Regions from separate parts of the Homo sapiens genome. Here region 1 is linked to region 2. Evidence: fine-mapped expression QTL. A gene starts in region 2. The other region holds a variant in brackets. All regions are shown on one strand. Distances are between the middles of the regions.

The links. PIP is the estimated chance that this variant, and not a neighbour inherited with it, causes the effect. A credible set is the group of variants that fine-mapping cannot tell apart.
Region 1: its variant is the best candidate, but not a certain one, in a credible set for the expression of FRK in prefrontal cortex (BrainSeq, PIP 0.52).

What each region holds. Positions count from the first base shown.
Region 1 is chr6:116,158,903-116,175,053 of GRCh38, reverse strand. The region is part of intron 6 of NT5DC1 (5'-nucleotidase domain containing 1); the gene reads right to left. It also overlaps a transcript of COL10A1 not described here. Among named protein-coding and RNA genes, the nearest start is that of COL10A1, 41 kb to the right of the region's middle. The variant T/AAT (reference allele first, on the strand shown) is at 7,848.
Region 2 is chr6:116,051,153-116,067,303 of GRCh38, reverse strand. FRK (fyn related Src family tyrosine kinase) reads left to right here and starts at 6,413. Exons shown (of 8, transcript NM_002031.3): 1 at 6,413-7,336. The coding sequence starts at 6,993.

The DNA.
Region 1 (16,151 bases), 110 kb before region 2:
AATTTTTAAAACAATGAGTAGATAATCCTGTTCATGGAAATATTCTATATCCCTTACTAATGATTATTATGGTCATTCAATAACCTAATCCTTAAGAAAAGGAGACAAAATGGTTTATTATAAAACATGACTTTTTAGATGTATCTTTAATACTACAAGAAACCCTTGCTATCCTAAAATGGCTTATGTAGTGTTTGTAGGGAACTATTAATAATCCCATTAGGTTGAATTAGCCATGCTTTATGGTACCAGTGGATTGCAAAGCAAGTGGTAGAATTGTAGACTGAGTCCTTCAAAATGGAGTATGATGAAAGCAAAATACAAATTCAGAAAAGTTATGAGAGCTAGAAAGGAGAGAAAACAAGTACCTGTATAAAAATCGAAGATGTCTTTAAAAAATCTTATTGAAAATAGTAAAGGGAAAATGCCTGAATTCTCTATTCTACCTAATCTTCACACAAGTTTTTCTTTTTCATTACTTTTATCATGAAACAAAACACGAATAGGAAATATTTTATTCACTTAACATTGGCACTCTAAATTTTATATTCAGTGGTGAAAAATACATTTAATCTAGTTATGAGCATAATTTAAGTTGGTTATTTCATTAATCATGCATATCGTCTTTTCCTTCAGGAGTGAGGGGAAGAATTAACACTGCTGAACAGACCTATTAGTAAGGTCAAAATGGTATGTCTATGATATTTCTTACGGAAGATTTCCAAATAAGTATATTTTTTTCTACTTCAGGCAGGGGAATTTAACACCTACCCGTCACTCTTGAGAGTGGGCTGGACTTAGTGACTTGCTTTCAAAAAACGGAGTATGCAAAGGGGAATAAGAGTAACTTTACAGTAGAGAAACATGGCAAATGCTATGTTGGTCAGGTAATCAAGGTTAATATTAGCAGTGATGTCATGTTGACAGCATGTACCCCTCATATGATGTGATAAAACTAGTTCTTCACTTCTGTGAAGTGAACCACAACTGCAGTCTAGTCATGGAAAACCATCAGACAAAAGCCAAATGGAGGGGCATTTTATAAAATACGTGGCTAGCACTCCAAGTGAGAAATTGTCACAGACCAGAAAAGACTAATTGAATGTGATGATTAAATGCAATGTGGTATCCTGAATGGGATTATGGGACAGGAAAAGGACATTAGTATAAAAACTGGTAGAAGCTAAATGAAGTCTTGTGGTTAGTTAATAGGAATGTGCCAATGTTGGTTTCTTAGATGTGACAAAGGTACCATAATAATGTAAGATGTGAACATTAGGGTGATATTCAGGATCACTCTATATTGTCTTTATCATTTTTCTATACATTTAGGGATTATTCCAAAACAAAGTGTATAAGACAACCAAAAAAATAAATAAATAAATTACAAAAATAATATGTGCAGGAAAAGAGGAGCCCAAGGAAATTTTCTGAGCTGGGTCTGATTTTTACCACAGTCCACAGCTCCTCATACCCTGAGGAGCACACTCGCCCTCGCTCAGCTTTAGTGTTGCTGTTGCTCAAAGCGGGAACCCTCTACATGAAGTGAATGAAGCTCTCTGCTCTAAAGGGACTGACAGGCTGCCTACCTCTCTCATTACACCATTGGAGGATTCTGTTCTGCTGTCCAAAAATCACACAGCTGGAAGGAACCGTCAGTGTTTTCCCACCCCAGATGGGAGAAGGTATTTCAACTTCAGATTGTTAAAGAGTAAATGTTCTAATTTATTTTTTAATCATATTTTTCTAAGTTTTAAATTTTGCAACTCTTAAAAATAAAACGTGGAGCAGCTCCATGTGTATTTCAAGTTGAGTGGTAAGGAGTAGCCACTGACACAGTTATAGTTTACACTTTAGATGAACACTGCCAGGGGCTGTGGTTTAGACACATACAATGTTTTTAGCTATCATTTTTAGTATATTGTGTTTAATTTATCTCCATAATGGATCACCACAAATTTTGAACTTTAAAAGTTATAGAAGAACATAAAAATGACAATTCCATAGGTTCTCTCCAAAATAATATCTGTGAATTGTATTCCTCTGATCAAATTTCTTATGTAAAAAAATTAAGATATCTCAAGATATAAATATAATTTTATCCTAATTGGTTATCCACACCTGCAATGTGAAACTGTAGAAAAGTGCCTGCAAAAAGAATCCTGAAACATCCTATCTTACCTCATCATTTGGAAACCAAATAAAAACAAGGAGAGTAGATTTTCCTAAAGGTCAAATTTCAAGAATTCCAAACATCCAGATGTGAAAAGAGTTTTGACTATTTTTGATGCCTGAGTACATAAAGAAATATAATAAATACTTTAAAATTTCTCAGGAAATAATCTTTTCTTATGTAATTAAATAATATATGTTATCTGCTATACAGAGAAAACATAAACAATTTCCTTACAAAGTATATATGTTACTAAGGTGTGGCCTGGCGCGGTGGCTCACACCTGTAATCCCAGCACTTTGGGAGGCTGAAGTGGGTGGATCAGGGGGTCAGGAGATCGAGACCATCCTGGCCAACATGGTGAAACCCTGTCTCTACTCAAAATAGAAAAATTGGCTGGGCGTGGTGGCGTGCGCCTGTAGTCCTACCTACTCAGCAAGCTGAGGCAGGAGAATTGCCTGAACCCGGGAGGTAGAGGTTGCAGCGAGCCAAGATTGTGGCACTGCACTCCAGCCTGGGCAACAGAGCGAGACTCTATCTCAAAAAAAAAAAAAAAAAAAAAAGTTACTAAGGGGTTATACTAAAATGAACTTGACAATCCAATCTTTAATAATATACTTATCTAATATAACCTTAAACTTAAAACCACTTATTATATACTATGTAAAAGTGAAAAAAATAATTTTCAATCTTTCTATGAGGAAATCATGAGATTGTATCACTTAGGAAAGGGTTTACAAATTTACAACAGGTTAGGAAATGCTCAACTACTTCAGTCATCTTGACTTACAGATGGAAAAAACACTGAAACCATAGATGTGTGGATGGAAGTGAGAGTGTTTTCTCTACCTTCCTCTTAATCTTTCTACAACATAATTTCTCTTTTAAGATGTGGCGGCTGTCATACAGCTGGCTATCCATCAATAAAATCCTATCCACTAAGCAAAGCAGGTCAGAAAACTCTCTCACTCTCGGACTTAAACTTCCCTGTATATAGAAAACAAATTTAAAGACAACTGTTTAAGTACCTCTTTAATATCAAAACACTAAATTTACAAATTGCACATTTATGCAAATGGTTGTACCAAGGCTTCTCTCTGTACCCCAATTGCTCAACACAGCTCCACTGTTCTTACCATGGGAGAAAACCGTAAAAACTCAGTATTCTGGAATAATCTTTAAATTCAAAAGTAGAATAGAAACAGCAGAGAAAAGTATAGGGGATACCAAAGAGAGAATTCAGCCAAGTCAAATATAGAATACACTGTCTTCCTGCTTTTCCTACCTAAACCACATTATTGCCCTATTCTTAGTCCCCCCAAAAAGGTAGGCTCTCAAGTTATATGACATATGGTTTAAACAAGTCTTTTGTAAGTACCAGTCTGAAATCTGATTATTATTACGATGATAATAATCATCTTTACCACCACTAACACTTGCACAGCCTGGCTTTTTTTATAAAGTATATTCCAAATTTCTGACAAATAGATTACAAATGGCCTTTTAGAACAGTGTCTATTTATAATTCCTGGTCTCAAAATCCACAAAATAATGCTTTTCTAGTCAAAGCAAAAACCACATATTTATTTGATTTTATAATGTGTATTCTTCGTAAAATAATAATCTTGGCAATTAAAAAATAAGTTAAGTGATTAAAACATTAAAATATGTAAAAGGTAGTGGTGACAATAATATAAGTGGGTCATTTAACCTTACATATATTCATTTATTCAACAATCACTTATGGAACACCTACTATGGATCAAGTGCTATGTTGGGGATTTAAAAAAAAAAGATGACTTCTAAGGATATTACAGGCCAGTAAAAACAGAGAGATGTGTGAATCATTAAGTCCAATGAAGAGGCGTGGTAGGGTGGTAACAGGCTAAATAAAATGAGACCACAGAGGAGGAATGGGCAGGTCAAATACAGAATGAGGTTTGACAGGCTAGATGTCAGGAAAAGCCTTAAGGGAGGAGGTGACCTTAAGCTGCAGTTTGAAAGATAAGTTGGCCCTGACAGATAATGAGGATAGGCTACACGGCAGGTGGGAGTGAGAACTGCAAGATCTTCTAAGGTGATCAACTGAAGGTACTATGCAGTATTTTCAGTTGATTTCAGAGGTATTTCCTAGTACCAGCAAGCAAGCAGTTTGCTAAGGCTGAATTTTGGGGTAGGGAGGTACAGCAACAGCCAGGGCTATGTATGCTATGCTAAGAAACATGGCTTTATCCACAAACAGTTCTTAATAGTTTCTGAACATATACCCTATTTAGAATTTAAAAGTGACTAAAACAAACAAACCCAACAGCTAAGGTGCACTGATTACTTATTATGAGTCAGGTACTTTACGTACACTTCTGATTTAGTTATATATCCACAAAAGCCCTTAAACAGGAACCATTTCTATGAGAAAATGGTGGCTATGAACCTGGTACTTTCCCTGTTGGAAAAAATAAATGGTGGCTAGATAATCTGCCTACAAGCACACCAACTACGTGGCAGAATAGACTTCGAATTCAGTTTAACTTAAGTCTGTACTCTATGAACCCTTTCTTTTGAATTAAAAAAAAAGTACATATATACACCACAATTATCTTCTTAATCAGGTCACACCCCCCAATCACTGGTGGGGACACAAGATAATCTCCTTTCATTCCATATCATCCCCTAGCTATGACTCCTTTTGTCTCTCCACTTCACAGCAAAACCGACAGAATGTTTATATATAAAGACACTGGCCATATCCACTTCCTAATTTCCCCTTATCCTTCTAAACTTGTCTTCCTACTGAAGAAAAGAGGGATTAGCTATGGACAATGTCGCTTATGGCTCCATATTGCTAATCCCATGGCCAATTAACTGTCTTTCTATTACCCAATGGCTCAACAGGTGACTAATTCTCTTTGTTAGTTCTAGGAAACCCCTCTCCCCTATTTCTGTTGTTTTCCTTTCTTCCTTATCTACCTTTCTTCTCAACTCCTCTTCTGCCCTAAGAACTATAAATGCTGGATTATCACTTGCTCAATCTGAGTTTTTCTTCCTTTCATAAATATCATCTATACACACTTTCAATCAATAGGTTTTTATTGATAATCCTCTGAACTCCAAATGTCTGTCCAATTGTCCACACATCTCCTCTAGGACATCACATGGGTATCTCAAACCCAAGAGGTCCAAAATAGAACTCTTCATTCCTCATGTTTTATCCATTTGTTAAAATTTCTCAATAAAAAATAAAGCTTAGCAGATAGCAGGTACTACAGGCTACCCCATACCTAAAGAGCTCATGCAATGCTGCATATAGTTGATCAGTATGCAAAATGAATAGCTAAAATCCTCAAAAGGCTTGTTAAGATATATATTTTCCTACCATATAGTCTTTCATACAGAACTTACGGCACCTATCATGATATTCTGGCTAATCACTATGCTTACTGAACTTACAGAAGTGGCAATATAGTAAGCATAGACACAAAATATTGTAACAGTCATAAACTGGAAACTATAACATGTTTTCATTTTTTAAATGTTGTGGAAATTGGTCTCTTGCTTCTGACAGTGGAGAACTATGCCATTTGAACAAATTGTCTAACTGAGGATAACTAGAAAAGTTAAACAAACTTTAAAAAATACCTGCTTAACAGCACTGAAGAACCAAAATGTCAATGAAGATTTAAGAGGTCAAGTTGAGAAGCTGAGGAAAAGAGAAACCCAGAAAGCTGAGCTTGGAATCTGGGGCTTCTGCCTGGAATTAGCAGTAACACCAACTTCAAGAAAAGTAAAGGAGAGCCTAAGAAGTCGCAATCTTCAAGAGGCTTGGAGGACAAAAAATGGAGGCCAGTGCCTGCCAAGGTTAGGTAGAGGCTAATAAACTCTCCAGGGTTTATTAGAAGTTAATGAGCTCTCCAGGTTGACCCAAAAGGCTATACTACAGAAAGAAGTACGAACCAGATATAATACAGCTCTCAATGGCCTGAAGCACAACTTCACATCACCTCAATCTCTAAAAATTGATGACAGGTGATCCAGGAGTGCTAGAGCCCTAGCTGCCTGCCAGAAGCAAACATAAGTTCTCCCTGTAGAAAGTTATCCTAGACCTCAACATTTTTCTCTGTAGAAAAGTACTCTCTGTAGAAAGTAATCCAGACCTCAACATTTTTCTATAAAATTAAAAAAAACAATAGCTAGTATCAATAAAAAATTATCAGATACTCAAGGAGACAATATAATATAAAAACAAAACAAACAATCAAAAAAAGGGGGAAAATACACGACAGAACCAGATCCACAGCAGCTCCTATGGCATGAAGACAGACTGAACCAGATCCACAGAAGCTCCTATGGTATAAAGACAGACTTGAAAACTATAAATAATAAATTCAGGAAGCTCTAAAATAAAATCAAGATTTTGTCAGAGAATTGAAAAATAGAAAAAGAACTAAATGGAATTCTAGAACTGAAAAATACAGTAATCAAAATTAAAAGCTCAATGGATAGGTTTATAAGCAGATTAGACGCAACTGAAGAGAGAATTAGAAAAATGGTTAGAAATGAGATTAAAAGAAAACAGAACAAAAGGCAGACAAGAAAAGAGAGAAGGTGAAAGATCATAAATGATAGTAAAAATATCTTCTAAAATATGAATAACTGAAATCCCAGAAAGAGAGAAAAGAGAAAAGGAGCAGAACAATATTTTTAGAGATAATGGCTCAGAATTTTCCAAAACAAACCAATGGTGTTAAGTGAATATCTGAGAAGCCCTCCAAGGAGAATTTAAAAAAAAAAAAAAAAAAAGACACCAGGTACATCATAAATCGAAGATGAAAAACCAAAGACAAAGAGAAATTAGTAATCTCAGCAAAACAGATTATCCTTTAAAGAACAATTATACTGATAACTGAATTTTCAACATAAACAATAGAAACTAGACTATAGTGCAGAAAATAACCATTAACCTAGACCTCCATTAAAAATATTCTCTAAGAATGAAAGTGAAATAAAAAAATTTTCAGAAAATCAACATCCAATACACAGATATGATTGTTTAGCTCTAATGTTACACTTCATTTGAGCTAAACAATCATATCTATTCATAACAACTTGAGGGCTATGCAACGTAATTATCCAACAACGGTCATGGGCATTGACTTTTCTAGGAAAGCTCTACTTCCCAAGTCACTGAGCCGAAACATTGCCTATGAACAATTCAAACAAATTAAAAACTAACGAAGGGTAGAAGGGTAAGAAAAGAAGGAAGTAAAAAATGCCTGTCAATTTATAAAATATTGCAATTTTATCAAATGAAATCAGTACAAATAACTGGTATCAAAATGATGCATATTTTTTGCCTTAGAAAGTTCTATGTGGGCTGGGCACGGTGGCTCACACCTGTAATCCTAGCACTTTGGGAGGCCAAGGCAAGTGGATCACAAGGCCAGGAGATTGAGACCATCCTGGCTAACACGGTGAAACACTGTATCTACTAAAAATACAAAAAATTAGCCGGCAGTGGTGGCGCATGCCTGTAGTCCCAATTACTTGGGAGGCTGAGGCAGGAGAATCGCTGGAACCTGGGAGGCGGAAGTTGCAGTGAGCTGAGATTGTGCCACTGCACTCCAGCCTGGCGACAGAACAAGATTCTGTCTCAAAAAAAAAAAAAAAAAAAAAAAAA[T/AAT]CTTCTATTTGAACTAATTTTACAAACACCTTTTAAGTACAAAGTATGTCACTTTTATATCTGATGCATTTGGTTGAACATATACAAATCATCAGTGATAAAAGATAATTCTACGGATATCACATGCTCTGAATAGTTTTAAGTGTGATTTAATTTTCTTGGGGGCAAAAATTTATAAACCATCTTTATAAGTCCTATAGTAGGCCTAATATGCAACTCTGTACAGAGTAGGCTCCCCAAAACAATTAATAAAGACAAGAAAGGAAGGCAAGATACTTCCTTGGCTCAATTCTTTGGCTCAATTCTGAATAACAAAAAATTATTCTCATTTCAAGGTCAGATTCCAGACATTTCAGAATTTCAGTCCTTTCGTCTTTAAATAGAAACCACTGTGATGAAGTTTACATCAGGGAACCATTTTTATCTCTTACATAATTTAAGTAACTACTAGATAAAAGATGAAAAGTCTCTGAAACTTTAGTAGAAATTTCTCATGGATTTAGATAAATAACTGAATTAACTTTTGAAATACACTACTGACTTGGTTTTAAGAGTGTTTTTTATCAGCATGTAGAAAAGGATGTCAGCAGTGAAAACCTCAAGGGAAATATCTGGGAAACTGGGTAAATGGAGATCGATGCCAGGAGTTTCTCACTCTCTGATGGCCCAACACTCAGCCTCTAGCAATTCATCACAATTACTAGTCAAATATCCACTATTCCCAATACCATTTACAGAAGACAAAATCCTTCTTCCATTGTGATTTCTTAGCACCTTTGTTGAAGATTGGTTGATCCATTCCTTTATGTTTTTAATTAGAACTGAATATCCAACCACCATGTATCAAAATTGTTGGTTAGGAGGAATCTGGATGGCTGACTAGGGATTTTGGATGTCAGTTATCCTCAGAGAGAAGATCAAAGACATAGATGAATGGTCATGATCTGAATGGAAAGCTTAGGGAAGATAGCCAGGATCTGTTGGAGACCCCACTGGTTGATGTGGGGTTGCAGAAAAGGAAAGCAGCAAGAGTCTCGCAGAGATTGACTCCCGAGAACCTCTGAATCCCGCCTGAAGGGTAGGTTGGGGTGCTTCTCTTCTCCCTTCACCCCTGCAATAAGCTGCTGACTGCCAAATTGTCAGGGAGCCTTTCTACCTTCATGACCCCAGGCAATGCTGTCAGTGCGGATTTAGGATCTTCCTGGGGACAGAGCACAGAGTGGCTAGTTTGTGCAGGTATCCCCTCACTCCCCTCAAGCCTGAGCTGAGAGGACAGACACCATACTGGTTGTGCATTCATTGTGGGCTACTACCCTGCATGGGGAATCTCAGCCCAAGTTGTTGCAATCACCAGTACCCTGCAAACATAGCCCAGAACCTGCTCTGACTTGACAACCACAGGGGACCAGCAGGTCCCTGGGGAGCTGTGGGATTTCCAGACATTCAGCCCTAAGCACAGGCTGCCCCTAGAAGAGGGGGAAGTGCGGCCCACTAAGAACCCCCTTGGGACAAAGGAAATGCAGGTACAAACTGATCACTGAATGGGGTGGTACTGGTGGTTGGTAACAGATGTAGAGGGGGGTCATCTCCTGCTCCCTCAGTCCACTGTTGTGGATGTAGGAGAGGCATTTTTCGAATTAACCCAGTCAGACAAAAATAGAAAAGAGAATTTTAAAAAATGAACAAATCCTTTTAAAAATACAGGACTATGTGAAGTCACCAAATCTATAATTTATAGGTATTCCTGAGAAAGAAGAAGAAAAAGTAAGCAATTTGGAAAACATATTGGTAGAAAGAATTCAGGAAAATTTCCCTGATCTTGTTAGAGATATAGAAATCCATGTGGAAGAAATCCAGAACACCAGTGAGATATGATATAAGGTGAACATCACCAAGGTATATAGTTATCAGACTATCCAAGGTCAATGCTAAAGAAAAAATCTTAAACGCCACTAGAAAAAAGGATCAAATCACCTATAAAGGAAATCCTATCAGACTAACAGCAGATTTCTTAGCAGAAACTGACAAGCCAGAAGAGACAGGGATCTAGTTTTAGACTTCTTAAAGAAAAATAATGCCAGCCAATAATTTTTTTTTTTTTTTTTTTTCTGAGACGGAGTCTCGCTCTGTCGCCTAGACTGAAGCGCAGTGGTGCAATCTCAGCTCACTGCAAGCTCCGCCTCCCAGGTTCACGCCATTCTCCTGCCCCAGCCTCCCGAGTAGCTGGGACCACAGGCACCCACCACCATGTCCGCTAATTTTTTGTATTTTATTTATTTATTTTTTTAGTAGAGACGGGGTTTCACCATGTTAGCCAGGATGGTCTCGATCTCCTGACCTTATGATCTGCCTGCCTCGGCCTCCCAAAGCGTGTATCTTTTTAAACTAAGCTTCATAAATGAAGCAGAAATAAAGTATTTCCCAAACAAACAAATGCTAAGGAAATTTGTCACCACTAGACCAGTACACCAAAAATGCTAAAAGGAAACAGAAAGATGATACTTGCTACCACAAAAGCACACGTAAGTACAAAGTTCACACATCCTATAAAATAATTACATAATTGAGGCTACAAAGCAACTAGCTAACAATATTAGGCAAGGAACAAAACCTCACATATGCATATTAACCTTGAACATAAATACTTGAAAGAGATAGATTAGCAAATTGGGTAAGAAAAACAAGATTCAACCATCTGCTGCCTAAAAGAGACCCACATAATGTATAAAGACATACACAAGCTCAAAGTAAAGGGGTGGAGAAAGATATATCATGCAAATGGGGAACAAAAAAGACCAGGGGTTGCTATTCTTATGTCAGATAAAATAGACTTTAAACCAACAAGAGTAAAAAAAGACAAAGAAGGGTATGATACATGATAAAGACTTCAACTCAATAAGAAGATTTAACTATCCTAAATATATACATTACCCAACACCAGAGCACCCAGATTTATAAAAGTACTACTACACCTAAGAAAATAAAATAAAAAGCCATACAATAATAGTGGGAAACTTCGACATCCCAGAGAAAACACCAAACAGATCACTGAAGGAGAAAACTATCAAAGAAACTTGACTTAAAACGGGCTCTGCCAAATGGATAGACACCTAAAGAACATTCCACCCAACAACCAAAGAATATACATTTTTCTCATCTGTGCATGGAACTTTCTTTAAAATTGACAATATGCTTGGTCACAAAGCACATTTCAATAGATTTTTAAAAATCAAAATAATATCAGGTATCCTCTCAGAATATAGCAGAATAAAATTAGAAATGAATGCTGAAAGGAACTCTCAAAACCACATACGTAAATGGAAACCAAACAACTTGCTCTTGAATGACTTTAACAAAATTGAGGCCGAAATAAAAAAGAATTGGAAATGAATATAGACATGTAACATATCAAATCTAGGATACAGCAAAAGCAGTGTTAAGAGGAAAGTTCATAGTACTAAATTCATAAATCAAAAAGATAGATCTCAAATTCGCAACCAAATGATGTACCTAACAAACTAGAAAAACAAGAACGAACCAAACCCAAAACTAGCAGAAGTAAAGAAATAAAGATCAGAGCAGAACTAAATACAATTGAGACTAAAATATCACACAAGGGATCAACAAAGCCAAAAGTTGGTTGTTTAAGAAGATAAACAAAAATTGATAGACTACTAACTAGATTAAACAAGAAAAAAAGAGGACTCAAATAAGCACAATCAGAAATGATAAAGATAACATTAAAATTGATACCACAGAAATACGAAACATCATCAGAAACTACTATGAACATCTCTATGCATACAAACTAGAAAACTTAGAGGAAACAAATAAATTTCCAGAAACATACAACCTCCCAGATTGAACCAGGGGGAAATTAAAATCCTGAACAGACCAATAACAACAAATTATAAAATTGAATCAGTAATAAAAGATCTACCAACCAAAACAAACAAACAACAACAAAAAAAAACCCAGGACCAGGGGAATTCACAGCCAAATTGCACCATATATACAAAGAAGAGCTGGTATCAATATTACTAATATATATATATATATATATATTTTTTTTTTTTTTTTGAGACGGAGTCTCGCTGTGTCTCCCAGGCTGGAGTGCAGTGGCACGATCTCGGCTCACTGCAAGCTCCACCTCCCGGGTTCACGCCATTCTCCTGCCTCAGCTTCCTGAGTAGCTGGGACTATAAGTGCCTGCCGCCACGCCTGGCTAATTTTTTGTATATTTAGTAGAGACGGGGTTTCACCATGTTAGCTAGGATGGTCTCGATCTCCTGACCTCGTGATCTGCCCGCCTTGGCCTCCCAAAGTGCTGGGATTACAGGCGCTCTGAGCCACTGTGCCCGGCCTAAAAATACATATTTTTTAAATTGAGGAGGAGGAATTCCTCCTAAACTCATTCTATGAAACTAGTATCATGCTAATAACAAGATCCAGCAAGGATAACACAAAAACAGAAAACTATGGGCCAATATCCCTGATGAACGTAGATGCAAAAGTCCTCAACAAAATACTAGCAAACTGAATCCAACAGCACATCAAAAAGATAATTCATCACGATCAAGTGGGTTTTATTCTGGGAACACAAGGATGGTTCAACATATGCAAATCAATAAATGTGATTCACCACATAAACAGAATTAAAAACAAAAATCACATGATCATCTCAATATGCAGAAAAAACATGCAATAAAATCCAACATCTCTTCATGATAAAAATTATAAATAAACTAGGCATTAAAGGAACATAACTGAAAATACTAAGAACCATATTTGACAAAGCCACAGCCAACATCATACTTACAGGGAAAAATTGAAAGCATTTCCTTTAAGAACTGGACCAAGACAAGGATGTGCACTTTCACCACTCCTATTCAACATAGTAATGGAAGTTCTAGCCAGAGCAATCAGGCAGGAGAAAGAAATTAAAGGCATCCAAATCGGAAAAGTGGAAGTCAAATTATCTCTATTCACTGAGGACATAATCTTACATTTAAAAAACCCAAATGATTCCTCCAAAAGACTCCTGGACCTAATCAATAACTTTGCTAAAGTCTCAGGATACAAAATTAACACACCATAATCAGTTGCATTTCTATACACCAACAATGGTCAAGCAGAAAACCAAATAAAAAACTCAATCTCATTTACAATAGCCATAAAAAAACATAGACTATCTAGGAATACATTTAAGATGGTGAAAATCCCATTTACAATAGCCATACAAAAACATAAACTATCTAGGAATACATTTAAGATGGTGAAATACAAAGGAGAATTATAAAACAATGAAACTGTAGATGACACAAACAGATGGAAAAACATCCCTTGCTCATGGGCAGGAAGAATCAATGTCATTAAAATGACTATACTGCCCAAAGCAATCTAGAAAGTCAATGCAACTTCCCATCAAATTACCAATGTTATATTTCACAGAATTAGAAAAAACAATTATAAAATTCATATGGAACCCATAAGAGCCTAAATAGCCAAAGCAATCCTAAGCAAAAAGAATAAACTTGCAAGCATTACATAACCTGACTTCAAACTACACTACAAGTCTAATGTAACCAAAACAGCATGCTACTGGTACAAAAATAGACACATAGATCAATGGAGCAGAATAGAGAACCCAGAAATAAAGCCACACACCTGATCTTCAACAAAGTCAACAAAAATAAACAATGGGGAAAGGATACCCTACTCAATAAATACTGCTGGGAAAGCTGGCTATCTATATACAGAAGAATAAAACTGGACCCCTATTTCTTTTTTTTTATCTGCTTTATATAATTTTATTTTTATCTACATTGTTATATCAATGCATCTTTATTATTATTTTTTATTATTATTATACTTTAAGTTTTAGGGTACATGTGCACAATGTGCAGGTTAGTTACATATGTATACATGTGCCATGCTGGTGCACTGTACCCACTAACTCGTCATCTAGCATTAGGTATATCTCCCAATGCTATCCCTCCCCCCTCCCCCCACCCCACAACAGTCCCCAGATTGTGATGTTCCCCTTCCTGTGTCCATGTGTTCTCATTGTTCAATTCCCACCTATGAGTGAGAACATGCGGTGTTTGGTTTTTTGTTCTTACGATAGTTTACTGAGAATGATGATTTCCAATTTCATCCATGTCCCTACAAAGGACATGAACTCATCATTTTTTATGGCTGCATAGTATTCCATGGTGTATATGTGCCACATTTTCTTAATCCAGTCTATCATTGTTGGACATCTGGGTTGGTTCCAAGTCTTTGCTATTGTGAATAATACCGCAATAAACATACGTGTGCATGTGTCTTTATAGCAGCATGATTTATAGTCCTTTGGGTATATACCCAGTAATGGGATGGCTGGTGGACCCCTATTTCTTACCATATACAAAAATTAACTGAAGATAGATTAAAGGCTTCAATGTAAGACCTCAAACTATAAATATTATACTAGAAGAAAATCTAGGGGAAACTCTTCTGGACACTGGCCTAGGCAAAGAATTTATGACGAAGACCTCAACAACAAATGCAACAAAACCAAAAGTAGACAAATGGGACTTAATTAAACTAAAGAGTTTTTCTGCACAGGACAAGAAATAACACAGCAAATAGACAATATACAGAATGAGAGAAAATATTTGCAAACTATGCATCTGACAGAAGGACTAATATCCAGAATCTGTAAAGAAGTTAAACAAATCAAAAAGAAAAAAAACCACAAAAATTCCATTAAAAAGTAGACAAACGGATATGAACAGACACTTCTCAAAATAAGACATACAAGTGACCAACAAACATATGGAAAATGCTCAACATCACTAATCATCAGAGAAATGCAAATTAAAACCACAGTGAGATGCCATCTCATACCAGTCAGAATAGCTATTATGAAAAAAGCCAATAGATAACAGATGTTGGAGAGGATGTGGAGAAAAGGAAATGTATATACACTGTTGGTGGAAATGTAAATTAGTTAAACACTTTTGGAAAACATTATGGGCATTTCTCAAATAACTAAAAGTAGAACTACCCTTTGATCCAGCAACCCCACCACTATGTATATACATAAAGGAAAATAAATCATTTTATCAAAAAGATACCTGTACTTATATGTTTATTGAGCACTATTCACAATAGCAAAGTCATGGAATTGACCTAAGTGTCCATCAAAAGTTGACTGGAATAAAAAAAATGTGGTATGTATACACTGTGGAATACTACACGGCCATAAAAAGTAATGAAATTGTGTCCTTTGCAACAACATGGATAGAGCTGGAGGCCATGATCTTAAGTGAAACAACTCAGAAACAAAAAAACAAATATCGCATGTTCTCACATATAAGTGAAGTACACATGGACATAAAGATGGAAATAATAGATATTGGGGACTCCAAAAGGTGGGGGCTGGGGGAAAGCACATGTTGAAAAGTTACTTACTTGGTACAGTGTTCACTATTTGGGTAATGGGTTCACTAGAAACCCAAAACTCACAATTATGCAATATACCCACGTTAACAAACCTGCACATATATCCCTTGAATTTAACAGAAAAGGGGAAAAAGATGACAGCAGTGTTGTGTGTGCTGCAGGGAGCATAAAGAAAATTACAGGCTATAGCTACATCATACAGATTCAGCAAGTTTGCAAATTATTCACATGACATCCAGAATACCCGACAGATATAATGGTGAAAAAAGTCTGCAACATTTAAGACATTCTATAATGCATGGTATACTTTAACTCAGAGGCAATAAAGAACAAAGGAATGGGTAGAAAATGAATAATCACATGTGTAAATTCTCAAATAATTAGGATAAAGCATGTGAATTAAAAAACAGAAATAATGACTTGAAAGTGTCTTTTTTCTCTTTATGGAAAAAGAAAGTTATGTTTCTCTGGTTTTTGATAAGAATAAACCTCATACGGTGAAATCAATTTTTAAAAGGAGTAATGCAGAATAAAAATCCATAAAACTACCAAAAAAAGTCACATAATTGTATATTTAAAAAAACCAAAACCAAAAACAAAACATTGATCCCAGAGCAATGGCATAAGAAGATATCCTTCTGTGGAATTCCATAACATTGCTAGTTAGTAAGTAGACAGGAAGTAATTTCCCTAATAAAATGTACATATCATTTAGATTTATTAATTAAAACTACTGAAGAACTTGTATTTGAGCTATTCTAATGCAAGCATTCATGCCAAGGTGTCATTCCATTCTTGCATTTACACATGGGATCAAATAAATGAAATTCCCCAATCCCCATCTGCGTCTCAAAA
Region 2 (16,151 bases):
TAAAGCAACAGCACTCTATTCTTCCATAGTTCTGAAGGCTAGAAGTCTGAAATCAAGTTGTCAGCAGTGCCATGCTCTATAGCTAGCCTCTTTTAGCTGCTGGTGTTTGCTGGTATTCCTTGGCCTGCAGATGCATTACTCTGTTCACATGGCTGGGCTTCTCTCTGTGTATCTTTGCTTGGTGTTGTTTCTGTGCCTGTCTGTGTCCAAATTTTCCCTTTTTATGAGGACACCTGTCATACTGGATTAGGGCTCACCCTGATGAATTCATTTTAACTTGATTACCTCTGTAAAGACCGTATTTCCAAATAAGGTCACGTTCTGAAGTGCTGAGGGTTAGGATTTCAACATATCCTTTTGGAGGACACAATTCAACCCATGAGACATGCTAAGAGAGAAGCTAGGTTGGGTAGTTTTGCTACTTTAGACAGAGTGGTTAGGGGTAACCTTTTTAATGATACATTATTTAGGTTGAGAACAGAAAGATCCATCCAAATGAAGAATCTGGACAAGAATGTTGTTGATTAGAAGAATAGTGAGAAAGAATCCATGGTCAGAAAAAAGGGCTTGGCTGTTGCCGTGGTGAACAGAAAGGTGGCCACTGTGGCTGGCCCATAGAGAGCCAGAAGAGTGGTGCCAGATGGAGGGAAGGGACAGGCTGGAGACAGCCCCAGCAGAGCCTTATTTCTGAAGATAAGGAATTTGGAATTCATAAGTGCAATGGGAAGCTATTGAAAAACACAGGTCTGATTGATATTATACAAAGATTATTTTGGCTGCCATTTGGAGAATAAGTTGCTGTATTAGTCAGGGTTCTCTAGAGGGACAGAACTAATAGGATACACACACACATACACACACACACACACATATATATATATAAAGGGGAGTTTATTAAGTATTAACTTACATGATCACAAGTTCCCACAATAGGCTGCCTGCAAGCTTGAGGAACAAGGAGAGCCAGTCCGAGTCTCAAAACTGAAGAATCTGGAGTCTGATGTTCGAGGCAGGAAGCATCCAGCACAGGAGAAAGATGTAGGCTGGGAGGCTAGGCCAGTCTCGCTTTTTCATGTTTTTCTGCCTGCTTTTTATTTGCTGGCAGCCGATTAGGTGATGCCGAACAGATTAAGGGTGGGTCTGCCTTCCCCAGCCCACTGATTCAAATGTTGATCTCCTTTGGCAACACCCTCATAGACACACCCAGGATCAATACTTTGCATCCTTCAATCCAATCAAGTTGACACTCAATATTAAACATCACAATTGCAATCGAACAAGAGTGAAAGTAGGGAGACTTCCTATGCATAGGACAGATTCTAGATTTTCCTTGTGATACAGAGAAATATAAGACATAAACTTGTCTTCAAAGACAGGGCAATATGCTTGGGGAAACAACACAATTACATATAAGCAGATATTAGACTACATAAGATATAATAAACTGTGTTCTAGGAGAATGACATTCATTAGATTTCACTCAACATATATTTATTGAGTGTCCATTAAGTGTTAGGCATTGTGTCAATATAGGAACAAAAGAACACTACATTAAGTACATAAAGAGATCAGAATCACACATGGAATAAATGACAAAAATGGGTATAGGTTATGCTGGGAGGGCACAAATGAGAGAGTGGTCAATTCTGTCTAATGAAGTAGTTGGGAAAGAATTAATAAAGACAGAGACATTTTATTCGATTCTTAAAAGATAGACAAGAACCCATATTTATCTGGCAAATAAGTTGGAAGATGGTTAATGTAGGAAAAGGGAGAGAAGTTGGGGTCATCACATCAGGCAAAAGAAGGGGATTGAGCAAAGGTCAACAGGTATGCAGAAGAAGTGCACATTTGCAGATTATATGGGTTCACAGCAAGAGTTTGGAGGAAGACTATGTGGTGGAGAGTTTTGTTTTTATTTTTTATGGCTCCCTAGGCCATAATCCTCTTTTCTATGTGTGGGGGAATATGTTACTGTGTGAGTTGGGGAGACAGAGTCCAATTTTCCTTTATGATAGCTCTCTCTAAGCCCTAGTGCTGAGGCCTAGCAGGGTTTGGGGATCATTAATTCGTCCTGGTATAAAACTGAATAGCTGTTGGATTTTCTGTAGCAGTATTCAGCATACCAGGTATAGGAGCATGGTTCAATTCATTTAATATTGTGTATATTAGGAGTGGGGATTGTGGGAGCTAGAAAATTCAAGGAAGACAGAAGTGATTTTTGGCTGGAATGGTTAAGGAAGGTCTAAGGAGGTGAGGGATTTTTATTCAGATCTTGAAATGCAGGCAGGAGTAAGTAGACTTACTGGGAGGGGAAGTTAGCAGTGGAAGGAATACTGAGTAAAAGAATGGCAAAGGATACAGGATCAGATGTGGGAACAGATGAGGCATATGGGAGATCTAATAAACCAGTCTGGCTAACATAAAGCCATAATGGAGGGGGTGTTGAAAGGGTACATCTGATAAAGTTTGGATAAAGTACAAATTCCTTAGCCTTGAATTCCAAGTCATATCTTCCAAGCAATGAGGATCTGTTGAAGGTTATTGTGTAGGAGAGTGATTAAGATTAATGTGGTGGCAATTTGCTATAAGGATGAGAAGAAAATTGACTCCAGGCAGGAAAACTGGGTTAGGAGGCTGGCAAAGGAATCTAACATTCAGGGAGCAATAAGAGAGGAAAGGAAGGGACTGAGAAGCAATAGACAGAATGTATTCCCTCCTCTGTGCTCCTGGCTCTTTTCACACTATAGAACTTTCACTCTCAATCATGAATATTCACATAAATGTTTATCTCTCCCCAATTGTTTCTTCCTGCTTCCATTTCCTCCCCATTTTTATCTCTGTCTCTCCCACACTGTTTCTTTTTCTTTATTTCTGTGTTAATTATTTAATTCATCAAATATTTATTATTTACATAATGGACATTGTACAAGACACTAAAGGTTCAGAGAAGGGAATTCAGTTCTCCTTGGAAAACCAAAGAGGGGCTCAACCACAAACCAAGTAGAAGTTTCTGCCAGAATTTAGGGGTGCATAGAGGCCTTTCATCTATATTCATGCATCGCCTGAACCCAACCTAGAAAAATGACAAGGAAGTCATCAGGGGAGCAGGTAGAGGAGGATGCAGAGGTGCAGCAGGGAACTGCTGGTCATTTGGCGAACTATGTCACAGGACCTGTGTGCAGGAGTGATGAACCATGATTGGAGAAGTTAGCAGGGCCTTGTGTATCATGCTGAAGAACTAAGGTTTATTCCAAATGTGTTGGAGGTTCTTCCAGAATTTTACATAGAAGAATAATATCAGATATTTTTAGAGTCAGCAAAACTGAGGATTTATACTCTCAGGCTCTGGAGTCAGATTGAGAACAGAGTGTTACTCAGGGTTAGCCACTTGGTGGCCGTGTGACCTTGGACAAATTACCTAGCCTTTCAGCCTCAGTTTCTTCTCTAAAATACTTTTTTTAAAAAAAAATACTACCTTCTTTGTAGGCATTGTTTTTTATTTGGTGAGAATTAAATGATATGTTATTTGTAACATTCTCTTATTTTTACCTGATATTGACAAATTATTATTGTATATTTTATGGGGTACAAAGTAATGCTGTGATACATGTATACAGTGTAGAATTATTGACTCAAGCTAATTAACATATCCACAGTCTCGAATGGAATACTTATCATTTATTCCTCCTGTCTAACTGAAACATTGTACCCTTCAACCAACATCTCCCCATTCCCCTGATTCCCCAGCTTCCGGTAACCACCATTCTGCTCTCTGCTTCTATGTGTTGGATTTTTTTTTTTTTTAGCTTCCACATATAAGTCAGAACATGCAGTATTTGCCTCCATGTCTGGTTTATTTCATTAGCATAAAGTCCTTCAGGTTCATTCATGTTGTCACAAATGACAAGATTCCCTGCTTCTTTGAGGCTGAATAGGTTTCTAATGTGTATATATACCATATTTTCTTGTCCATTCATCAATTGATGAACACTCAGATTGATTCCATAACTTGACTGTTTTGAATAGTGCTGCAATAAACATAGGAGTTCAATATCTCTCAGACTTCCTGATTTCAAATCTTTTGGATACATACCCTGGAGTAGAATTCCTGGATGTTATTTCTAACATTCTTAGTACAGTGCCTGGCACATAGAAAGCTTTCCAAACAGATAGCTACTCTTACTAGTAATGACTAGGAATGACTTATCACCTCAGTCATTGTTACTATTATAAAAACTACTCTATAAACTATTATGAACACCACTCATCTTGGTGTGCAAGATGAGCCAGAGATGGGAATAAGCTGGAGGAAGGGAGATCAGTTAGGAGGCCTCTGGAATAATCTAGGAAAGAATATTCTGTTTTCTGTCTGGTGCCCAGCTGTCGCTCAGAAGGAGCTTTAAAAAAAGTTTGTGGAATAAATGAAAAGGAAGACTGAGCAGAATTCAGTGATTGATTAGCTCAAAGAAACCAGGGAGCAAACGAAAGATAACTGCAAGACTTGGAGATTGAGTGACTGGAGAATTCTGGTACTATGGACACAAAGAAACCTTCTCTCTTTCCACCCCTCAGCTCTGCGTTCTCAGGCCATTGCTCACCTGACATCTTTGGATGGTTGGCCGCTTTTTGAATTTCACTCACTTGCTCAATGACTGTGGTGTGCAGGTCTGCTGCTTTGTCTTTTTCCAGAATGCCTTGTCATAACTATAGTAAAGGTATATCTGAATTTAGAACCCCGACAATTCAAAAATCTAAAACCCCACTTACAAATTGGGTTTGAATACATCTCTCAGGTTGCTTCCAAATCTTTCTTTCTTTTCTTTTCTTTTTTTTTTTTTCATTTTTAGATCATGTAGATGTCTCAGGGAAGACTTCAGCATCTGTGCCTCTGTTGGGGCATTAATAGAATCCTATGCTTTTACATCCATTATTGTATTTGGAACAAAATATCCTTTATGGTCATTTGGTATTATATATTTTCTGTTTTGTATATAATATGAAATTACATATACAGTCTATTTTAGGTCTCATATCATTATAAAACAAAACAACAACAGCAACAACAAAAATTTGGCTCAGCTTTTGGCTTTTATACTTCTGTCAACTTGTTATTTGTACTCTGACTCCAAAGACAATTGGAGAAACTTGGGAGCATAACACAAGATTTTATTTTAACCAATTGATCTGTCCACTGCTATGGACTGATTTTTGCACAAAGTAATAGCAGGTTGGGCTGATGCCATGGTTCTCTGATTTTCTTTTTCTTTTCTTTTCTTTTCTTTCTTTCTTTCTTTCCTTCTTTCTTTCTTTTCTTTCTTTTTCTTTCTTTTCTTTCTTCTTTCTTTCTTTCTTCCTTTCTTTCTTCCTTTTTCTTGAGTTTGATTATTCTGATTACTAAATGCCTTGCAATTTGAAAAAGAACAGAAGTTATGAGCTTGTACTAGGAATAGGTTAGCCAGGTTCAAGGGTCTCACAACATTTAGAAAGATTGTTTTTAAGAAAGAAATAAAAAAAAAGTCTTATAGAGAGATCAGTGACACTTCATAAACAAGTTTGCAATGCTGTCTACTAGTATAAATGACCGTACGTTGATCTGCCAGACTCATTGCCCGGCTGTTTTTGCCAGGGCACATATTTGTGAGACAGCTGCTCCGAACTAGGGAAGGTCAAGCAAAAACCACTGCCTGTCTAGAGATGGCTGTCCTGATGTCAGTCTCATTAGTTCCTGAGTTCTTGCCAAGTTAGTAAGAACTAGCATAGATCTGGAGGTCAAAGTTTAGCAGAAAGAGCCCCCACAGCAGTGTGCAAAGAGCTCTTTTTCTGTTCTACTCTTTTTTTCTCTACTGGTCACCTAGTTGGTGTGTAGCGTGTGTGTGTGTGTGTGTGTGTGTGTGTGTGTGTTTCCCAAATAGTACTTGAAGGATAGGAAATTAAATGTCTGTGGGAAAAAGCAACATTTTGGGTTCTCAGCATTTTAGTCAGCTGCTTTCTTACTTTTCCAGACTGTGACTATTCTTTGAAGCTATTAAAATCTATTCTTGGTAATGAGAAAAGGGAGTGACTTGATGGTTCTTTTCCAATTGCTCTGTGTCTGACAAGAAATACCTAAATACTTTAATTTGCCTTTTTAAATTTCCCCTAGTGGTGGCAAAACAATTCTACTCCTATTTGTCAGGGAAAAAAATCTCTGCCGTGAATTTCAGTGCTGGGAACATAACAAGACAAAAAGCTACCTGGGCTAGCCTGTTTCTCCAGGATGAAACAAAAGGAATATAGATTTTAGCGGCTGCTTTAACAGTTTGGTAAAGGATCTGGTCTATCTTGGGTGTGGGAGATGGGAGGGGTAAAGAGGTCAGAATACCATTTAGATCACAGACAGAAAGAAACCAGGAAGTAAGGGGAAATTATTACAGTCTGTTCATAGCTCAGAATGTTAAAGGCAACAGCCTCTGCTGGTTGGTTATTCATTAGCAAAAAGGAGAGAGCCGTCCAGATCCGGACTGGTCGAAAGACAGGAACAGACTTGAAACAGGGGGAGAGCTCCTGGCGAAAGCAAGACGTGGAGGTTTTACCAGGGGTTAGTAGCTTCCTCTTGCTAACTTTTTATTGGGACAAAAGGCAAGATGGCACCATTCTGTTCTCAGATATTTGTCTAAATAAAGCCCTTTTAATTTTATTTTATTTTTGTTGTGGGATTCTTAAGCAGATAAGAAGAAAAGACACCTTCCTAGTGAGCAGCTGCCCAGCTCCTGCTCAGTTTTGCCTCGGGGTAGCACCTCCAGCCACAGAAAGCAAGCCGGTAAGTCTCTCCAGGTAGGACTTGCTGCAACCCAGCTGCTGGACTGATCTGAAACGGGACTTTGCATACTCTCCGAAGTATGGTGAGTTGGTGCTGACTTCAAAGTTGCCTGGTGAAGGAAGATAAGGTGGATCGCAGAGACTAAGGGGAGAGGGAGAAGCCCTGCTCCTCTTCTCCCCACCAAGGCACAATGAGCAACATCTGTCAGAGGCTCTGGGAGTACCTAGAACCCTATCTCCCCTGTTTGTCCACGGAGGCAGACAAGTCAACCGTGATTGAAAATCCAGGGGCCCTTTGCTCTCCCCAGTCACAGAGGCATGGCCACTACTTTGTGGCTTTGTTTGATTACCAGGCTCGGACTGCTGAGGACTTGAGCTTCCGAGCAGGTGACAAACTTCAAGTTCTGGACACTTTGCATGAGGGCTGGTGGTTTGCCAGACACTTGGAGAAAAGACGAGATGGCTCCAGTCAGCAACTACAAGGCTATATTCCTTCTAACTACGTGGCTGAGGACAGAAGCCTACAGGCAGAGCCGTGAGTAGTACAAACTTATACTTAATTTCTGAACTCTCTGAGGGCTGGGTAATGAGTTTTCCTTTCTACTTCTCTACAACCCCCTAATGTCCAAAGAGTTGCCTAAAAAGTATGAGGAAGTACTGGCAAGAAACCACTAATTGAAACACACCTCCCCCGCTAAGTGAGTGTGAAACTGGCCAGTAATTGTTGTTGAGATGACTTCAATTACAGTATGTACATCCACAGGTCCAGGGTGTATTTTCAAAATAAACAAATGATGTGTTTAATACTGTACCTTCTCTTTGGCTGTAAAATAACTCATGCCTCACTTTAGCAATAAAATTGCATTTTGTTTGAAGGTAAATTATAAGACTTCCCTTAATGATATTCTCAAATCTAAACTTCAGATTCTTTTTTTTAAAAAAAACTTTTGAAACATTCCAGGGTAATATATCAACTCTAGCCCTAGCTCTAATCCTAATCCCTTTCATTCTGATGGGAATATACAGGGCTAATGTAGAAGACAACACTTAGAAGATACTAATGTTCTCAGTGACATCATGATATAGATTTTTTTTTAATTCCCAGATCCTGAGATATGCTACCCAAATTATGATATCTTTTGGTTTTTATTATGATTAGAAACTGGCCAGCTACAGACATTTGGTAAATTTTGATAGGAAAAAGGACAACATCTCCTTGAAGAGGAGATAAAGACTTTATCCTGGTATTTGAATGAAATATGAATTATATTGCAACAAAAGAGGAAAGTTTTTATGTACTTATTCACCCATCCATCCATCCATCCATCCATCCACCTACCACCCCTCCAAGTGCCAGGCATAGACAGTAGTGGGCCTGGTGAGTTGGGGAGGGTAAAGGAGATTATTCTAGTAGTGACTGAATACAAAGTGGATAAAACATAGTCTTGACAATGGATACTTGGGGTCTGGTGGGTTGGGAAGCAAATGGAGACTGTCATTGGCCCTGATCTCATTGCTTCCTGAATCCAGTGAAACCTTAGACTGGGAATGTCTTTCAAAAAATGTACTCATTTTTTTTTTTTTTTTTTTTTGAGACGGAGTCTCGCTCTGTCCCCCAGGCTGGAGTGCAGTGGCGCGATCTCGGCTCACTGCAAGCTCCGCCTCCCGGGTTCACGCCATTCTCCTGCCTCAGCCTTCCAAGTAGCTGGGACTACAGGCGCCTGCCACCACGCCCGGCTAATTTTTTTGTATTTTTAGTAGAGACGGGGTTTCACCGTGTTAGCCGGGATGGTCTCGATCTCCTGACCTCGTGATCCGCCCGCCTCGGCCTCCCAAAGTGCTGGGATTACAGGCGTGAGCCACCGCGCCCGGCCAAAATGGACTCATTTTATAGAATGGTTTCTTAATAGGGAAACCATTGGAGATTCTCTTATGTTCTCATGTAAGTGTTTCTTATTTTTATGTGAGCGTCCCTTACTGGTCCAGGGAATAAGATAATAATAAATAGCCATAGAGCATTGTTTCTGCTTTCCAAACTCATACATCACATATGAAGGGAGGTTTGACGAGTTTTGAGTTTTGAGATTCTTTTCAACACCAAGAACCTATAAATGTTTAGAAGGGTCTTAATTTATGCTTAAATAGAAATGAATTGAAATATACTTTTAATGAATGGAATTGATCAGTTATCAAGTGGGAAAATCACCTGTGTGAACATTTGCTTTCTGTGATAATCTACAGGAAATATCTTTATATATTGGATACACTTATGTGCATTTATCTGTTTTCACTACTTTATGATTTCTATGTCCTGTATGGCATTATGCATATTTTATATTTGGCATAACATGTATATTATAATAATAATATATTAATGTTTCATGCCTTGAATTCATAATCTGTTAGTTTTAAATATATTCAACTCATATAACTACTTAGGACCTCAATTTCCTCATCTGCAACTCTCTGGGGTTGCCATGACCAATGGATTTCCTGACTATCTGGGAACAGGAGCTCTTATGTTCGTATGTAGTGGTTCAGTTACATTCATGCTTGACTGTATTAGAAATGCTGAAGAAAGCAAATTAACTGAAACAAGTCAAGCAATCCGAAGGTATCATATTCTGGGTAAAAGGCTTGAGAGCAGTGTTCTTATTAATTTAGATTTTCTTTGCCTACAAACACAAAATAAGGCAACTAAATTATTATGGCTATTTTTGATTCTCAGAGTCATTTGTAGCCAATAATATTTTTTCCCTCTGCACATTACCTTGACCTTTCTTCTTGGAATTGGTTCTCAGCAGCATTCCTACCTGTCAGTACCATTCTAGATCTCTGTAGTTAGCTTTCCTTGGGATCTTCACATCCACTGGAATAAAAACCATGATGCCCAGAAAATGCTGCCACTCTGCCTCCTGGCTGGAACAGGCTACTTGTTTTCTTTTAAGTGCACACCATGGTCTTCACCTGTGAACCTGGCTTACTTCTGAAGTTTCTTGTCACCGTAAGGCAAAATTGCTTCAATACTCTTAGTGCAAGTAGCTGTAGCTTCTAGAATTCCCCTCCATCTCAAATAGAAGCGATTTTTACTGAACAGCCTTCTGCGTGAGTGTGTCCAAGTGGCTCACACAGTACTTTAACACTTGAAGAATTATATAAAAACAACTTATTTTAATATTTTTTCTTCAGTGAGTTTTTTCAAAAGTCTATTTTTTTCTCCTGAATGCTGTGAAAATTAACGTAATTTTTTAAAATCATGAGCTCAGTAAGTTGACTTAAGGAAAGATTATTGTTTATATCCACATGTATGGGATGAGTAGGCAATGGGAAACCAATGAAAGCTGTCATCTAATTCCTAATTAGACCAGTTTAATGCAACGTATGTTAGTATTTGTGTTTTTATGTCTTTACTTTTGATGTGCATCTGTAAGAAGAAACTGCAAATACTTCTGGAGTTATTGGTGCCAGGGAAAATTAGTTTAAGGCTTTAGTTTGCAGTTTGTTTGTTTTCTTTTATACTTGGAAGTAGAGATGTTGAAAAACAAACTATTGTTTAAAAAGCCCAATTTACTAATTCTTATCCCACTTAGAAATGCTTTTCACCTTTACTGAATATCTTCCACTAAGTGATATAATAAACCAATTCTTGAAGATTTATTTTGTCTTTATGAAGAATCATTAGATTTATCTTATCTTCGACTTGAATTTATTCCTAGCTCATTTTAGAGATGAGTCTTTTTCTTCAACATCTTCAATGTGAAATCCCTCGAAAACCTTGCCCTTAGGGTCTTATTAATCAGAACTTTCTTTAATATTTTATTTATGGTGTTTTTAAAGATATAAAGTTCACATAAAAATAATGATGTGGAAATAACATATAAATATTAGAACCAAAAGTAATGGCTTTAAATTTCATTGCTTTAATTGTAAAAAATTCAAGTATTGCAAAATATTGATAAAAAGCAATATGATCAGCAATAATATTAGACGTAGCATCATTTATCTGCAAAGAGTTTAAAAAGTTTTTTTGCTTAGGGAGGATCACCTGTGTCCAGGAGTTCAAGAACAGGCTGAGCAACATAGTGAGACCCAGTCTCTACAAAAAAATTAAAAAATTTGCTAGGCATGGTGGCACAAACCTGTAGTCCCAGCTACTCGAGAGAGTGAGGCTGGGGCAGGAAGACTGCTTAAACCTGGGAGGTTGAGGCTGCAGCAAGCTATGGTTGTGCCACTGCACTCCAGGCTGGGTGACAGAGCCAGACCCTATCTCGAATCCCCACCAACCAAAAAAAAAAAAAAAAACCAAATGAACAATTTTTTGCTTAATTGTTAAAGTGTACCTTAGGTGTTGTCTAACATACTTTTGTGTTAAATTGAACTAGGGTCAGAGATGAGATCAGTTTAATCTCCCAGAAAGGGGATTGGTAGGAGGGGAATGGGGTGGACATAATCACATAAGCCAGCCACTGATGATTTCTGCTTCGCCAACTTGACCACGCAAGCCAAGGGCAGCAGTTGAGATAGCTGATTTGACTCCCCTTTGCATGTTAAGTTTAAGTTATGATAACAACAATGAAATGTGCTGCTGAACTTCTGACTCCATACACTTCTCAAAGACATAAATGAAGATTCTATTAAGAAAATTAGATCACTACAATCATCTCTAAAGTTTATTGTTTATTAAGCTCCACATTTTTCTAGGTCATATTCTTGTGTATCTTCTTACTTGTGAATCAGTAATTTTGTCTTAAGTCCATTCTATAGGCCTGGTATGGTGCTAAGTGAATGACTCAGCAAAGGCAGAGGAATTAGTATTTGCTTTGTTATATATATATAATTTGGCTTTATGTTAAGAAATATTTCCACACTTATGTGTGAAACAATAAAGGCCATAAAGTTTATTTCTGTCTCCTAAATTTGAGCATGGCATACCTTTGTGGGTAGGAGGGCTAGAGGAGCCACCCATACTGACCTACGATGGTGTCTTTGTATCTCTTGTTAGCACTTTAGCAGGGGAAGAAGCAAAGTACTGGATTTTGTAGAAAGTTTTTCTTCTCCTCTTATTACTGTGAAAGGTAGATAATTTCCAATTCCTCATCTATTCATCATTTCAGTGGCTTCCTTGAAAAAGAAAGCAAGAATAAATATTTGTAACTTGTAGTTTTGTTGGTAGTTTATGATTATGGTATAAAAATGTTAGAATGTTCTGAAGTATAAAAGTAATGGGATTTTTCTCCATGTATTTAGGCCATATTTTCCTGCTTGTGCTGCTCTTTAGTGTGTCAGACTAGAGTTCTTTGAAGATTTTATCTAACCTATGATGATTGCCATTGTCGAGCTTGAAAGCAGCATGGTGAAACAAAGTGGTATATTCTTGGAAAGATTCTTATATCACCTATATCACCGTTTTAAAATAGAGTGAGGCTTTGCTATTTTGTCATTTGAATGCTGTGGAATTTAATAATTATTGAATACAAATTGTACATAGTGTGCCTAATCATTTTCAACTTAAATGTCAGCAGATTTTTTTCTTAGCTGGGATATGAGACCAGCTTTTGCATCTTAATTATAGGTATAGAAACAATGTGGTTTAAAAATTAACATTACCCTTAATACATTTTAAAAGTCATCAGAATATTCATAATCCACTCTGACATAATAGATGTTATCTACTTTGAGAAGTTTGAATTATTAAAAGTCACCAGTGTGCGATCAGTTCCACAATTGTTCTTTATCTAGATCATTTATTTTGTTCCCTTTGTGTAAGTTGTCAGGGAAGACTAAATGCCCATGTGTCAAAATGAAAATAATACCTAGTAATAAATGCCTGAAAATAATGCCTGGCATTTCTGGGTTCTCTCCTCTAAGACAAAGTATACTTACTATAATTTTAGAAATGAAATAAAAAGGTATTTATATATATAAATAACACTATATTTATAAAATATAGTATTATACTATATTATACTATATAATATATAATATATAGTATAATATTATAATAGTATAATATACTATTATATATTATATATATTATATTATATATAATATAGTATAAATAATATATAATATACTATATAAATAATACTATATTTATAAAAAATACACTATAAATATACATATGGTTGTTTATCAAGTGTTTTGGATTAATCAAGATAAAAATTTTAGCACAAATCATTTAAGTCAACCAAAAGCATATTTAAATGCCATGAGATTAATTAGCGTTACTGTCCCCATCCTTTATTTTTCACCATATGTTATTTATGATGATGTAAAATAAGAATATGACAAATACGTTTTTAAAATAATTTATCAAAAAATTTCATCTCAGGTATAATATTATTTGACTTCATGTTAATATAATTGTACTGTTTATGTTAATATAACTAACTCAATTTGTTATATAATAAATTTTTACATAAATTGCCACTATTTTTAAGAAAAATAATTAACTACTAAATTAGAATATATTTCATAAAAATAATAGCAAAATCATAGATGTGAAGAAAAGAGCAACCAATTCAACTATGTTAAAATCCCAGTTGAAGTTTAATTAATACCTGTGTCAAGTAATTAATAGCAGTAAAGCTTGATTACATGCATCTCAAAGTACCTTTGAGAACCAGTGAAGTGACATAGTATGGCATCATTAAAATGAGTTAGGAGTCTTTTCTAGGAAAAGTAGCAACATTGATAATACTTTAAAATTTCCAATTGCAATATGTCATTCAGAATCACTCTTTAGTAAAAGTATTGATTATTTTTGCTTTTCAGGTTTTCTACAAATTACTAACAATGGGAAAAATCTTATGTGAGTGAAATAAATCATTAACTACTGAGCTCCAGTCTTAAAGATTAGAACCCAAATTTTAACTTGATCAAATTTATTCTTTGAAAAGAAAATGTTCTATTGGATTCAAATTGGTTTACTTTTGTTCAAATGAATTAATTTAATTCCATGGTTTGTCTCTGCAGATACATCCTAGTGTTGCTTTTTGATGAATAGAAGTCAAGAATCTCACCAAACTGAGATTGTCAAAGTAGACACAACCTTCTATACAGTAAAGCAGGACTAAATTCTTTTAGCAGCTACTATATGCTGTGCACTTTCATTGTTCTTGAGGTTACCAAAAGAGGAAAAACCAACAAAACTTTGCCTCAATTAATTCTTGTTGCAGCTCAGAAAATTCCCTTCAGATTTTCTAACTACCAATACAATAGTGAGAACCTATATGGGCAATATAAATAAGAGCAGCCTTTGGGTTCTTCTGGTGAATGTTTCAACTAGATCCAAACATTAGTGTATGGAGTTTTACTGAAATATAATGCTGGTTACCCTTTTTGACCTAGCCTATGGTATGCCTAAGAACATAAAATATAGGCTCAGATGATCTAGATTTGAATTTGACTCTGTAATGTCTTAGCTGTGTGAGCCTGAGCAAATTACTTGACCCCTCTGCCTCAGTTTCTCATCTGTTAAATAGGAATCACAGTGACACCTATCTTATAGGATCATTATGTGACATAAATGAGACTGTGCAGAAAGGGTGCACTGCAGAGAACCTGACACATAGTAAGGTTTAATAAATATTATGTTTCATTTAGTTGGCAGCTCCTCTTTTACTTCTGTCTAAATGGATCATACTTTACACCCCCACTCTAGTCTGAGCTCACAATATTCTTTCCCTGTAACAGGTGTCCTGGACATTGAGTGTCTTTCAGTCTTCGACCGTCTGCACTCTCCCTCACCTGCAGCCTTGGTCTTCAGATGGGCTATTCTCTCTGCCTATAACCCTCTCCTTCCTCTTTTTTTCCTGACCAGCTTAACTTATCCTTCAAGTCTCACCCTATTTGTTCCTCCTTCCCCAAGCCTTTCCTGACATACTAGACTACATGAGGTGTTCCTGCCTAGAGTTGTTAGCACCCTTTGTCTTTACTGCTAATTTATTTTCTGCAGTGCTGTAAACTATGGATGTGGGTAGTGGAAAGGTGAGCCATTGCTCCTCCCAGAGCTTAGTATGATACCTGTGAATAATAAGCACTGATTGGGTAGATGAATAACTAAATGAATGATTGCTTATCTACAAATCTCAGGTCTTTTAAAGAGCAGCCCACAGAGACACCTCTTCTTTAATTGTTCCTCTCTGAATTGCATTTTTACCTACCAGAAAATTCTACATTAAAGGCATAAGCTATTTTTTATTCATTTCTCAATGAAATTGCTCATGCCTTAATATTTGGTTAGACTCACAGTCATAAAAGCATAATTCCCAGGTTCTCAGAAATTAGTTGCTCTAATCCACCTCTGGGGAGAAAATACTTAAGAGTCGTAGACCAATTCAAATATTCTTTGTAATGTAGACTGAATATCAAGTCAGGAACAGACTGTAAATCTCATTGAAATGGCGTCTAAAAATCACATATACACATATTAAACCATACTATGGTTATATTTAAAGTAGAGGATTTACTGGCCAGAGCTTTTAAATGGAGAGCAAATCTAGATCCAATTTACAAAATTAATGTTGTGGGGCCAGACTTGTAATTTCAGTTTTTATGCTCAATATACATAATTTCTAATTATTATGTGTATGAAATATTTTTCAGCTTACATAAGCTGAAAGTCTGACTCTTCACTGAATATTAATAGATTTTTACTGTACATTCTAACATTACCAAAAAATAATTTTATCTTCTTTTTACTAGTTTTCTCACTAATTAACTACTAATTTCTCTGCAGCATTCTCTGACTCCCATTTTAAATATGGGTTCTTAGCTCTTCTTAGCATTGAAAGGATTGAGCCAGTTTCCCTAGGGAAGGTAGTTATATAGATTAATAGCAGTTTTAACGATATTGCAGGGTTCCTTACAGATATTTTCCTAAAGCCTGCAACTTTAGTATTAGTTTATATGGCTGTTCCCTTGAAGATTAATGTAACAGAAGAAATTTGCTAAAATGCATAGATGCAAATGTAGATCATATACTCTGGATCACTTACTTTATTGCTTATTTGGATAAATTCAGATACTGTCATAGACTGTCCCTTGTGTAATATCTTTCTGTCATGATGCAATTTTTTTCTACAAAGTTTTTTAGTTGAATATTTTTCTATTTACCAATTGAGTCGATTGAATGTCAGATTCTTTAATGTTTTTATTAACGTATTTTTAATATTCAGATGGTGCATTTTATAGTGCCTTTAAATTCAGACTAAATTCTCAATCAAATACTTTTTTCATGATTTCCGTGCCTTTTTATGGGTAAAATAAAAATGCAATTCAGTAAATTAATAGGAACGTTTGAACTTTATACTAGGTATCTTACTTGAAAGACATTTAGAATACTATTT